Linked DNA regions of Homo sapiens. Changing the gene in region 3 together with the main gene of any one other region gives a genetic interaction. Each region holds a gene or a part of one and is shown on either strand. Other genes may lie near its edges. The genes, in order: CYP4F12, SSTR5 and MAPK12.

Region 1 (3,649 bases), on a different chromosome or scaffold from region 3:
GGGTAAGGGAGAAAAGACTGCATATTGGGGACAGTATACACTGCATGGGTGATGGGTGCACTAAAACCTCAGAATTCACCACTATAGAAATCATCCATGTAACCAAACCACTTATATCCCAAATGCTATTGAAATAAAAGGAAGTAAAGAAGAGACAGATCTGCACATTAACAATATATCTTTGGGAGCTTTTCTTTTTCTAAAAATATGAGTTTTGGAAAATTAGTTCGTTTTTATTTTTAATTGGCAAATTTTAATTATATATGTTTATGGGGTGCAATGTGATATTATGATATATGTATACAACGTGGAATGATTAAGTCAATTTAATAAACATACCCGTCATCTCATATACTCATCATTTTTGTGGTGAGAATATTTGAAATTTGCTCTCTTAGCAATTTTGAGAAATTTATTATTATTAACTGTAGTCACCATGCATGCAATAGATCTCAAAACTTATTCCTTCTAACGGAAACTTGTACCCTTTGACCAATGTCTTTCCATTCTTTCTTCCTCCCTTCTCTGGTAACCACCATTCTCTTCTTGGTTTCTATGATTTCTGTGTTAATTATTTCAGATCTCACAGTTAATTAAGGTTATGTGCTGTTTGTCTCTTTGTGCCTGGCTCATTTCACTTAGCATAATGTCCTTTAGGTTCTTGCAGATTGCCACAAATGAAAGAATTTTCTTCTGTTTTAAGGCTGACTAGCATTCCATTTTGTATATATACACCACACGGAAAATGAGTTTTGAATTACAAAAGCAATGATGAGAACAGTTTCTTCTTGCACTCAATGAGGCATCACAGATAGACAAGGGTTATTCTTGACATTCCTGCTATCCCACCTAATATCCTCCCTTTCTCCAAGGGGGCCTGTAGAGATACTTATTTGTCATCTATCTGTCTGTCTGTTTACATCTATCTACATATCTTTCTATCATCGATCTCTTCTTATATTCCTTATATTTTTTGTCCTATGGTATTTACATATATGGACATTTGGGAACATGTTTTTTTCCACTCAATACTGTGTCTGACAGATATTTTTTCTGAGTGCTGAATAGCATTCCATGTTTTATTTGGCCCATCCCTTTGTTGAAGACACTTGCGTAAACATTTCCAATCATTGGAGGTATGGCCAATTTGCATTCCAGAGTCTCTGTACTGATTTAGCTTCTGGTCTGCATTGTGTGACAGGACTAGTGATCCTTTTTTTCTCCTTTTGTGTAGCTGTATACTATTCCATTGTGTGGATGTTTATCTAAACATCTCCCCATCCATGTATATTTGGCTTGTTTCATCCTTTTGCTAAATTAAACTTGTGCAATCGGCATGTGTGTACAGTGAGCATTGCTCATATGTATAAACATCACTGCAGGACAAATTCCCAAAAGTGCAATTGTTGAACCAAAGACCATTTGCATTCTACAGTTGTAATAATGATTGCAAATCCATCTCTATATTAGGTGAGTTTGATGGCACTAGCTTTCCCACAAATTTGCCAATAGTATTATTGTATTATTAAATTTAAATTTTTTGTCCATCTTCATATTTCATCTTTTAATGAGCATTTTCTTAAATAAGAGTGAGAAAGAACATCCTTTGCCCAAGTTGATAAGCCATTTATTTTCTTTCTATGGGAGTGGTCATCTGATATTTTCTGCTGTTTTTCTTTGGGTTCTTTTTTCTTATTTACTTATAAGAATGTGTATCACAATTAATGTTTTTTTTTTCTGTTTTTTTGTTGCAAAAGATTGCCTTTTGACTTTTTTGGGGGGTGCTTTTGGTTAATTTTTATGAAGTTACATTTGTTCGTATTTTCTTTTGTACCACACTACCCAGCTATTTCCCAGAGTTTTGTGGGGCTTCCTTTGGCAGATGGGAAGTTTCCACTTATTCACATGCCCGTCTCTGACCTTTTTAGTCTTTTGAATGCATCCGTTTTTATGGCATTGCCAGACTATTTTTTCTTACTGTGACTTTTCTTTTCTTTTTTCTTTTTTTGAGATGGAGTCTAGCTTTGTCGCCCAGGCTGGAGTGCAGTGGTGCGATCTCAGCTTACTGAAACCTCCTGCCTCTCTGGTTCAAGCTATTCTCCTGCCTCAGCCTCCCGAGTAACTGGGACTACAGGCACCCTCCACCACGCCTGGCTAATTCTTGTTTTAGGTAGAGATGAGGTTTCACCACATTGGTCAGGCTGGTCTCAAACTCTTGACCTCAAGTGATCCACCCACCTCGGCCTCCCAATACTCTGACTTTCTAATGGGTTTTAATATCTGGCAGAGTGGCTTTTTTTGTTGTTAAATCAACCCCTGCAAACATTTATTGTGTGATAAAGTGTATGTTTTATTTGGATTGAGGGAAATTTATAATGAAATACAGAGATTTCATGTTTCTTTTTAAGTTTAATCCAGGTATTTTATATTATTATGACTAGTATCTTTTCTTTTATTATCTTTTCATTTGATGGTTATTTCTATATGGTAAAACTAATGATTTATGCATATAAATTCTATGCCCAGTGAACATAGTATATGCTAAAGATGGTATCTGTATCAAGAGAAAAAATATAGATAATTAAGTAAAAGCTCTTGGGGCAACTGGAAAGCCTTCTGGAAAAAAGGCAACTGAACCTTGTTCTCATATCTTATGACAAGATAATGTTCAGATTAATCATTTTTTTCTAAAAGAGTCCTAAAAGCTCTAGAAGGAACCATGAGAAAATTATTTCATAGCGCCAGAGTAGGGATAACCTTATTTTGACGTAAGTCCCAGGGGCTATGAAAAAGTGATAAACTGTTAAATGAGAGAAAAGATACACGCCAGCCACGGTGGTTCATGACTGTAATCCCAGTACTTTGTGAGGCCAAGGTGGGCAGATCACTTGAGATCAGGAGTTCAAGACCAGCCTTGCCAAATTGGGGAAACTCCATCTCTACTAAAAATAAAAAAAAAAATTAGCTGGCTGTTGTGGTGAATGCCTGTAGTCCCAGCTACTTGGGAGGCTGAGGCAGTAGAATCACTTGAACCAGGGAGGTGGAGGTTGCAGTGAGACAAGATTGTGTCACTGCACTCCAGCCTGAGCAACAGAGACTCCATTCCCTCCCCCCATCAAAAAAGATACAGAATAGTGTCTACAGTAGATGGTGTGCTCCTATATAATTTTTTAAGATGCTTAAAATCAGCCCAGAAAGCATACATTAAAAAAAATAATAACCTGGCAACGTGTGGGGAGAAGTAAATGGCATTGGGCCATAGGAGTGAATTATGTTTTATAGTTTTCAAATTCTGAACCAGATAATTGTAGACGGTATGAAAATTTTAAATAGCCACTGCAAAAGAAGAAAGATTAAGCAGAGAATTCAGCTCCTTTGCTTGATCTTAAATGTTTATAAACGTTTTCCAGTGGGGCCTCTAGTGTTTTCTAAGTATAAAATCACTATCTGCCAAAATGATACATTTACTACCACATTTCAAATTGCCTGACTCTCGTGTTTTTTTGGCTGCATAAATGTCTTCTTTTGAGAAGTGTCTGTTCATGTCCTTCGCCCACTTTTTGATGGAGTTGTTTTTTTCTTGTAAATTTGTTTGACTTCATTGTAGATTCTGGATATTAGCCCTCTGTCAGATGAGTAGGTTGCGAAA
Region 2 (3,749 bases), on a different chromosome or scaffold from region 3:
AGCTTGATGTTGGGGATGTGAGTAGATCCAGCGCCCACCCACCCGCAGGGCTGAGCTCCCACTGGGCGCTGGGCCGTGACTCGCACACCGGACCCTGCACCCCTGGGGCACCCAGTGATTCCAGAACAGTGGGACCCCAGAGGCTTCTCAGGGAGCCCCAGAACATGACAGATGGGGGCCCAGGTGCGAGGCAGTGGGAGCTGGAGGAACACAGCCAGGGGCTGAGGCGAGAACCATGAGGATGGTGGGCAGAGGCTGAGGGGAGGGGCAGCAGATGGAGATGGGGGAGGCGTTAGGGGTCACAAAGGGGGTTCTCAGAGGATCTGCCTTGGGAAGCCACTGCTGTGGGAGGGTGGGAGGGATACAGCCCAGGTACCTCCAGAGAGGATGGAAAGGCTTATGGGGCGGATTCTGGGCAGGGGACCTGGGACCAGCCTGCAGCCTCCCCTGAGGGCCTGGCCATGGCCGCAGGCTGGGGAGGAGGGGAGGGGACCTTGGGGCCAGGTGCCATGGTCCTCTAAGCACTCTTGCTCGATGGTAAACATAACACGCGCTGCTTGCAGAACATGTGGAAACACTGAAACGCTTAAAGGAGAGAACATGGTCCCGGTACCCGGCCTTCAAGGGAGCTGCTGGCGCCTGTTCAACAGGAGCCGACCCCACCTGTGAACAGACGGCAGGCGGCTGCTCCCATGTCCCCTCAGAGAGGGGCCCTCCGAGTTCTGCTGTCACCTGGGGGCGCCTCACTTCATTCAGCCAGTGGCGGGGCTCCCTGGGTCGGCACAGAGTCAGGGGAGGGGGCTGGGGGACCTCCTGGTGGGAAAATGTCCGGTGATCCCCAGCCTCCGCGCTCAGCGGGAGGAGGCGCTCGGTCCCGCTTCTTACAACCAGCGGCGCTCACGGCGGGCCCGGGGATCAGCATCCCGGGAGCTTCTCAGGAATGCAGATTCCCAGGCCCTCACTGCCTGGGGAGTCGGGGGCCCAGCTCGAGGCCCAGGAATCTGCTTTGAGGACCCAGGTGACTCTGCTGCCTGCCTGAGAACCCCACCTTAGGTGAGGGACTAAGGTGTACCCATGGATTCATTTCAGGGGAAATAAAAAGAACAACTTAGCAGGTAGTCTATGCTTAAATATGTGTAGGATCCACAAATAAGGCATGGATAAAACCCGAGTGGAGTGTCCTGGAAATCCCACGACCACGGACCCCCCTCGCTGGGGCTGCCTGCCGCCCCCACCAGCCTCCACACACCCACTTATCTCCACAACCCCAGCCCACCCCTCAGAGACGTCTGCAGAGCCCCTGACCCTCTCCCCTTGAACAAGGACCCTCCACCCTCTTCAGACTCTCGACGAGGGACCCCCTGGACTCCTGCTGGCGGCAGGACCCCCACCCCAAGCTGGGGTCTACCACAGAGCGGACAGCAAGAAAATAGGGTGGGGGCGCAGGCGATCATGGGGTCACTGCCAGTGGGACCAGGGCTGTGGGCGAGTGCGCCAGGGTTCCCGGAGGCCAGACGTGGGACCCGGGAGTCGAGCAGGTGAAGCGGCCCTGCCCCGCCCCCACCAGGCACTGCCCCGCCCCCGCCCCGCCCCGCCCCCTCCCAGCCGGCGCCCGGGAGCCCGGAGCCAGTGCCGCGCGGACATCGGGGCTCCCCCGTTCAGAGGGCGCCGCCGCCCAGGTGAGTGCCGCCCGCCCCTGTCCCCCTCCCGCGCGGGCACCCCCTGCCCTCGGCTGTTATCCCCACTGGGGGTTTCACCCTGTGTGCGCAGCCCCGGCCCGGGGTCCCGCCGTGCGCCCCCAGCCCGCTGCACGCACTGTCCCCCACGCGCCCTCCGCACACCCGCGGGGCTCTCCTGCCGCCGCCGGGGGTCCCTCCCCTCCCGTTCCATCCACTCCCAGCAGCTCCATCCCTCCCATCTCCTGCCCCCACCCCACAACTCACCATCTGCAGGCACCCCGTGTGCCAGGGTCAGCCCAGAAGCCACAGGGGACCCAGATGGCCCCACTCTGCCCACCGCGCCGCTCCCGGCCTCTCCTCCCCACGACGGGGGCCACAGCGGGGCTGGCTCCTGGAGCTGGAGGAGGGTGGGTAAGGCTGGGGAGGGCTCGGAGCCTGGGGCTGGGGGCCGGAAGTGGCACTCAGGCCACAGGGAACCACTGGGCCACGGAAGGAGGGTCCCAGGGTGCCCGTGGCACCCAGCGAGGGGAGGATCCGCAATTTGGGTGCCGGGGGAGGCAACTGGTGCCTGCGCGCAGCTGGGTCGGTGAGCTCCTGGAAGGCAGCAGGCAGAGGCCAGCACCCAGGGGCCCTGTGACCTGGCACTCACAGATGGGTTCCCTGAAACCCAAGACTGGGGAGGCTGGGGTGCCACCCCGCCCGCTGCGAACAGAGCCCCCTCCTGTCCAAGGCACCGCGTGTACCTGGAATCCTCCTGGCGTCTTCACCCTCTCCAGAATAGAGAACACGCCACTGGGGTGTGTGCCCTTGGCCCTCCTCCCCCACCCCAGACCCACCCACGTGCCCGACCCGCTGTCCCCAGCCTGCCAGCCTGCCTGGGGCCCCCTCAAGGGCAAGAGAGCGGAGTGCATGGTGACAGAAGTTGGGGATGGTTCCAGTGAGGCTGAGCCCTTTCTGAAGGCAGTGATTCTGGACTATGTAGGTGGGGACTGCCAGAGCCTCCTGGGCAGAAACTGGTCAACAGCACCAAGGACAGGCGCCTGGCGTTGATTTCCAGAGCAAGACCCAGCGAGGCTGTCAGGAGGTGCCTGGTGTGGAGGGTGCCCCGAGAAGCGTTCGCGGAGCACGCGGGACCCCTGCTGCTGCTGCTCCAGGCTGGCCCACACCTGCCTCAGTTTCCCTCTCCTGGGGAGGGTATGTGCCCCTGGCCACAGGCTGCCGCAGGGACAGGTGGCGTGTATGTGGGGGACAGGCAGGGGTGCCATTGGCTGCACTCACAGAGCTGGACCCCAAGGGGGCAGTGGCCTGCCACCAGGCCACCCTTACGACAGAGGAAACAGGTCAGAACGCTTGTCCTGGGAGCACAGGCCTGGCTCCGGGGCCTTTGGAGGGGCTGGGGCCTGTAGTCTTAGCTAGGGTGTCCCCCGACGTTTGCCCCTGCCCAGCACACAATGGAGGAGCCCGGGTGGGTCTGCAGCCTCTCCAGGGTGCGGCGTGGGCCCCGGCCGTGTGAGCCGCTGCCTCCCCGAGCAGCAGGTTCCGCAGCCCCTCCAAGCTGCAGCCGCATCGCTGCCCCCCATGAAGGAGCCGACTCCCCGACCTCGTGCTGGGTTAGCCTGGAAGGAGTTGGCAGGGTGCAGGCTAGACCTCCACCCAGTCATGGAGGACTTGGTGCTGAGGCCCCGCCTCTGGTCCCAGGCCCCTGTGAAGACTGCCCCCTTCTCCGAGGAGCCCAGCGGCCTCCTGGATGCTGGGGAAATGCTGGGCTGCTTAGGGCAGCTTGTGGGAGCAATCGTTGAGCGCCCAGTGTATGCCAGCCCCGCTGTGGTCCCCGTCGTGGGGAGGTGAGGCCGGGAGCGGTGCTGTGGGCAGACTGGGGCCATCTGGGTCCCCTGTGGCTTCTGGGCTGACCCTGGCACACCGGGCACCTGCAGATGGTGAGTTGTGGGGTGGGGGCAGGAGATGGGAGGGATGGATGCTGCTGGGAGTGGATGCACGCAGCACCCTGCACACAGAAGCTCACTCAGTTTCATCAGCTCAGCAACCCTACAGTTTGCAGGAGTTGCCTAT
Region 3 (3,290 bases):
TCACATGACCTGTCTACTGTCTATCTCCCCAACCAGGGGTGCTGAGGGGACCAGGTCTGGTGGGTCACGGTGCTGTCCGCCTGGGCCTCACCAGCAGAGGCCTGGCCTCTTTCCATAGCGCTGTCCCCACCCTGGGCCTGGATCTGTTTGGTTGGGGTGAAGAGGGGTGAAAGGGTCAGGCGGCAGGAGCCCTTTGGATGGTTCGGAGCCATCCCAGACTCCGGGTTGCCCCTCCCCCAGAAGATCCCGGTTGTCACCGTCCAAAAATAACCTTTCTGTGGGTATGTGTGCCAGGGCTGGGCCACACTGCCAGTGGGTATGTGTGCCAGGGCTGGGCCACACTGCCAGTGGGCAGAGCCAGGCCCTTTGGACAGTGGGGCATGACAATGACAGCTGCAGAGGGGGTTTCCTGCCCAGAGGGTTGTGCCACTCTTGGGGGGTGCCCCAGCCCGTGTCCTCTGCTGCATTCTCAACCCTATGTGGCCCCCCCAGGTGATCGGGCTGCTGGACGTATTCACTCCTGATGAGACCCTGGATGACTTCACGGACTTGTGAGTGCCGACCTGGGCTGGCCGCTGGGCACGAGGGGTGTTGGGCAGCTCTGGGCACTGGCTTCAGGTTCTAGGTTGGCAATGGGGTTCTCTTCCTGCAGCCTGAGTGGGGGATGCACACCGCCCACCCCCTCCCCATACCACTGTCCACCCCACGCCCTCCCCCACATGGTCCTGGGACCCACGGGCACTGGCACAGCTGGGCAGAGCTGGGGCTGCTGCCTCTCTCCACGCCTGGCACCTGGGCCCTCTCCAGCACCGGAGGTGTGAACCTTGGACCTGACCATTTGTTAACAGGAAGGTCCCGTGCTCGGGACCCTGGCACCAAGTGTGTGGCCGGTAACTGGAGCTGCTGACCTTTTCCAGCGGGTGGGGGAGAAGCGGTAGGGAGGACCCACCCTGCCCCTGCCCTGCAGCCGACCACCCTGGGACTCACACCCTGTCGGCCAAGAGTGAAGGGCCAGGCCGAGGAAGGCCTGGAGAGGGTAGCAGGCGCCTCCCGCCTGACTTGCAGAGGTCAAGTCAGTGGCCTCTGGGAAGGTGCTAAATACCATTCTCCTGTGTCTGTCTCCACCGGCCCAGCCGACCCCTCTGACCCAGATGCCTTGCCGCGCCCCCATCGCCCCCAGGCACCTCCCTCATTTCTGGCACAAAGTTGTGAAGTTGAAACCTGACTGCCTCCCTCCCCTGCCTGTGAAGACTCGAGTCCTGCTGCCTCTACCATGGAGCCTCAGCCCCTAGCCTGGCACGCAGGGCGCTTCAGCGGAGGGTTCAAAAACCCCAAGGCAGCCTCCTCCCTGCCTGACAGTCCTCAGGGTGGGAGGGGGGTGTGAGCGCTGCTGGCAGTAACAGTTGCGGGAGGATGGAGCCTGGCACTGCAAGGTGGGGCTGCGAGGACACCGAGGCCAGTGTGGATGTGTGCTGCAGGGGTGACCTTCCTGGGGGTGCCTGTTGGATCCGGGACGGGTCTGAGCCTGGGCCTGCTGGGTGGGTCTCTGGGATGCAGAGGCTGGCTCTGTCCGCTGACAGCGCTCCGGCCCCTCCCACAGTTACCTGGTGATGCCGTTCATGGGCACCGACCTGGGCAAGCTCATGAAACATGAGAAGCTAGGCGAGGACCGGATCCAGTTCCTCGTGTACCAGATGCTGAAGGGGCTGAGGGTACGGGCCCCGGGGGAGGCTGCAGGGAGGCAGGCAGGGCCTCGGGGCTGGGCAGAGGAGGGCCCTGTGGCTCTGAGAGGGTGCGCTGAAGCCTGCCAAATCCTCTGCCCCCCGCAGTATATCCACGCTGCCGGCATCATCCACAGAGTGAGTCCCGGTGGAGAAGCCGCTCATCAGCCCTCCCCCAGTGCAATCCCCCCGCCTCCACGTCCCACCTGTGAGGATGTGATGGGGTCTGGGTGCTGAGCCACGCCCTATGCACAGCCCCTGGTGGGAACCTGCCTGGGTGCCCAGGTACCTTGGTCTGCCCTTGAAGGGCTGCAGAGAGCAAGGGGGCCAGGTCCGGTGGCCCCATCTTTAGGTGCCACCCAGGCTCTTGGCTGTGCCCATGCTTGGGAGGGTGGGGCACAGTGGCCACCTTTCCTCTGCCCCCAGGACCTGAAGCCCGGCAACCTGGCTGTGAACGAAGACTGTGAGCTGAAGGTGTGTGCTGCCTGGCAGGGGGCCCTGAGGTGGGGCAGGGGCCCCCTCTGGATCTGCCCATCTATCCACCTGTCAGGCCTGGGCAGGGGGCCAAGGTCCCAGGCTCTGGGCAGTGGCTGAGGAGCTGGTGGGTGGGTGAGCCCAAGAGGCAGTGGTACACAACATGCCGTACCCAGGGCACCTGCTCCGTCCCGAGGGCTGCTGGGCTTGGTGCACTGGCCAGAGGGAGGAGCTCGGGGCAGTTTGGGGTCCGAGGGCGTGGCCTCAAGTCCTTGAAGGTTGTCAGGAGGCCCCAGCTTGGGAGCTTCAAGTCCAACCCCCCGGGGTCTCCTGGACCGTGGGTGGCCTGTCCGCTCCTTGGGAGTCCCCTAGAACCCACCTCCCCAATTCTTCCCACAGATCCTGGACTTCGGCCTGGCCAGGCAGGCAGACAGTGAGATGACTGGGTACGTGGTGACCCGGTGGTACCGGGCTCCCGAGGTCATCTTGAATTGGATGCGCTACACGCAGACGGGTGAGAAGCTGCCCAGAGATCTGGGCCTCTCAGGCTGCACCATCTGCTTCTCCACTTCTTCACGGACAGCCCTGTGGTGGCTGCTCCCAGGGAGGCTGTTGAGCTGGGGTGGGAGCCGGGCAGGTGGGCTGTGTTGGTGTCTCCTCCCTCCCCGTCTCATCCTGTCCCCCTGCCCACGGAGCTGACCAGGGCTTCTATCTCAGTGGACATCTGGTCTGTGGGCTGCATCATGGCGGAGATGATCACAGGCAAGACGCTGTTCAAGGGCAGCGACCGTATCCTCCAGCCGCAGGGCGGCACCAGGGGCGGGTGGGGATGGCTCCTGCCCAGGTGGGGGCAGTGGGGGCCCTGATCTCTGGCCCCCGAGCTGTGTTCCTGACCTCGGTGCAGACCTGGACCAGCTGAAGGAGATCATGAAGGTGACGGGGACGCCTCCGGCTGAGTTTGTGCAGCGGCTGCAGAGCGATGAGGTAAGGGGTGAGTGGGGAGCTGGGTGGGGGTGGGGGCGGACCTGGGCCTTGGTGTTGGCCCCTCACCCTTTCTTCCCACACAGGCCAAGAACTACATGAAGGGCCTCCCCG

The links.
Region 1: changes in MAPK12 (region 3) and CYP4F12 together harm fitness more than expected from each alone (negative genetic interaction), as found in Homo sapiens cells (one large-scale study listed by BioGRID).
Region 2: changes in MAPK12 (region 3) and SSTR5 together harm fitness more than expected from each alone (negative genetic interaction), as found in Homo sapiens cells (one large-scale study listed by BioGRID).

The regions. Positions count from the first base shown.
Region 1 is NC_000019.10:15,689,968-15,693,616, forward strand, and holds part of CYP4F12 (cytochrome P450 4F12), read left to right. Parts: intron 1-3,649. UniProt on the Homo sapiens protein: A cytochrome P450 monooxygenase involved in the metabolism of endogenous polyunsaturated fatty acids (PUFAs).
Region 2 is NC_000016.10:1,071,144-1,074,892, forward strand, and holds the start of SSTR5 (somatostatin receptor type 5), read left to right. Parts: upstream 1-1,603; 5' UTR 1,604-1,679; intron 1,680-3,749.
Region 3 is NC_000022.11:50,255,504-50,258,793, reverse strand, and holds part of MAPK12 (mitogen-activated protein kinase 12), read left to right. Parts: intron 1-492; coding exon 493-551; intron 552-1,600; coding exon 1,601-1,712; intron 1,713-1,829; coding exon 1,830-1,859; intron 1,860-2,147; coding exon 2,148-2,195; intron 2,196-2,594; coding exon 2,595-2,709; intron 2,710-2,912; coding exon 2,913-2,984; intron 2,985-3,099; coding exon 3,100-3,179; intron 3,180-3,262; coding exon 3,263-3,290. UniProt on the Homo sapiens protein: Serine/threonine kinase which acts as an essential component of the MAP kinase signal transduction pathway.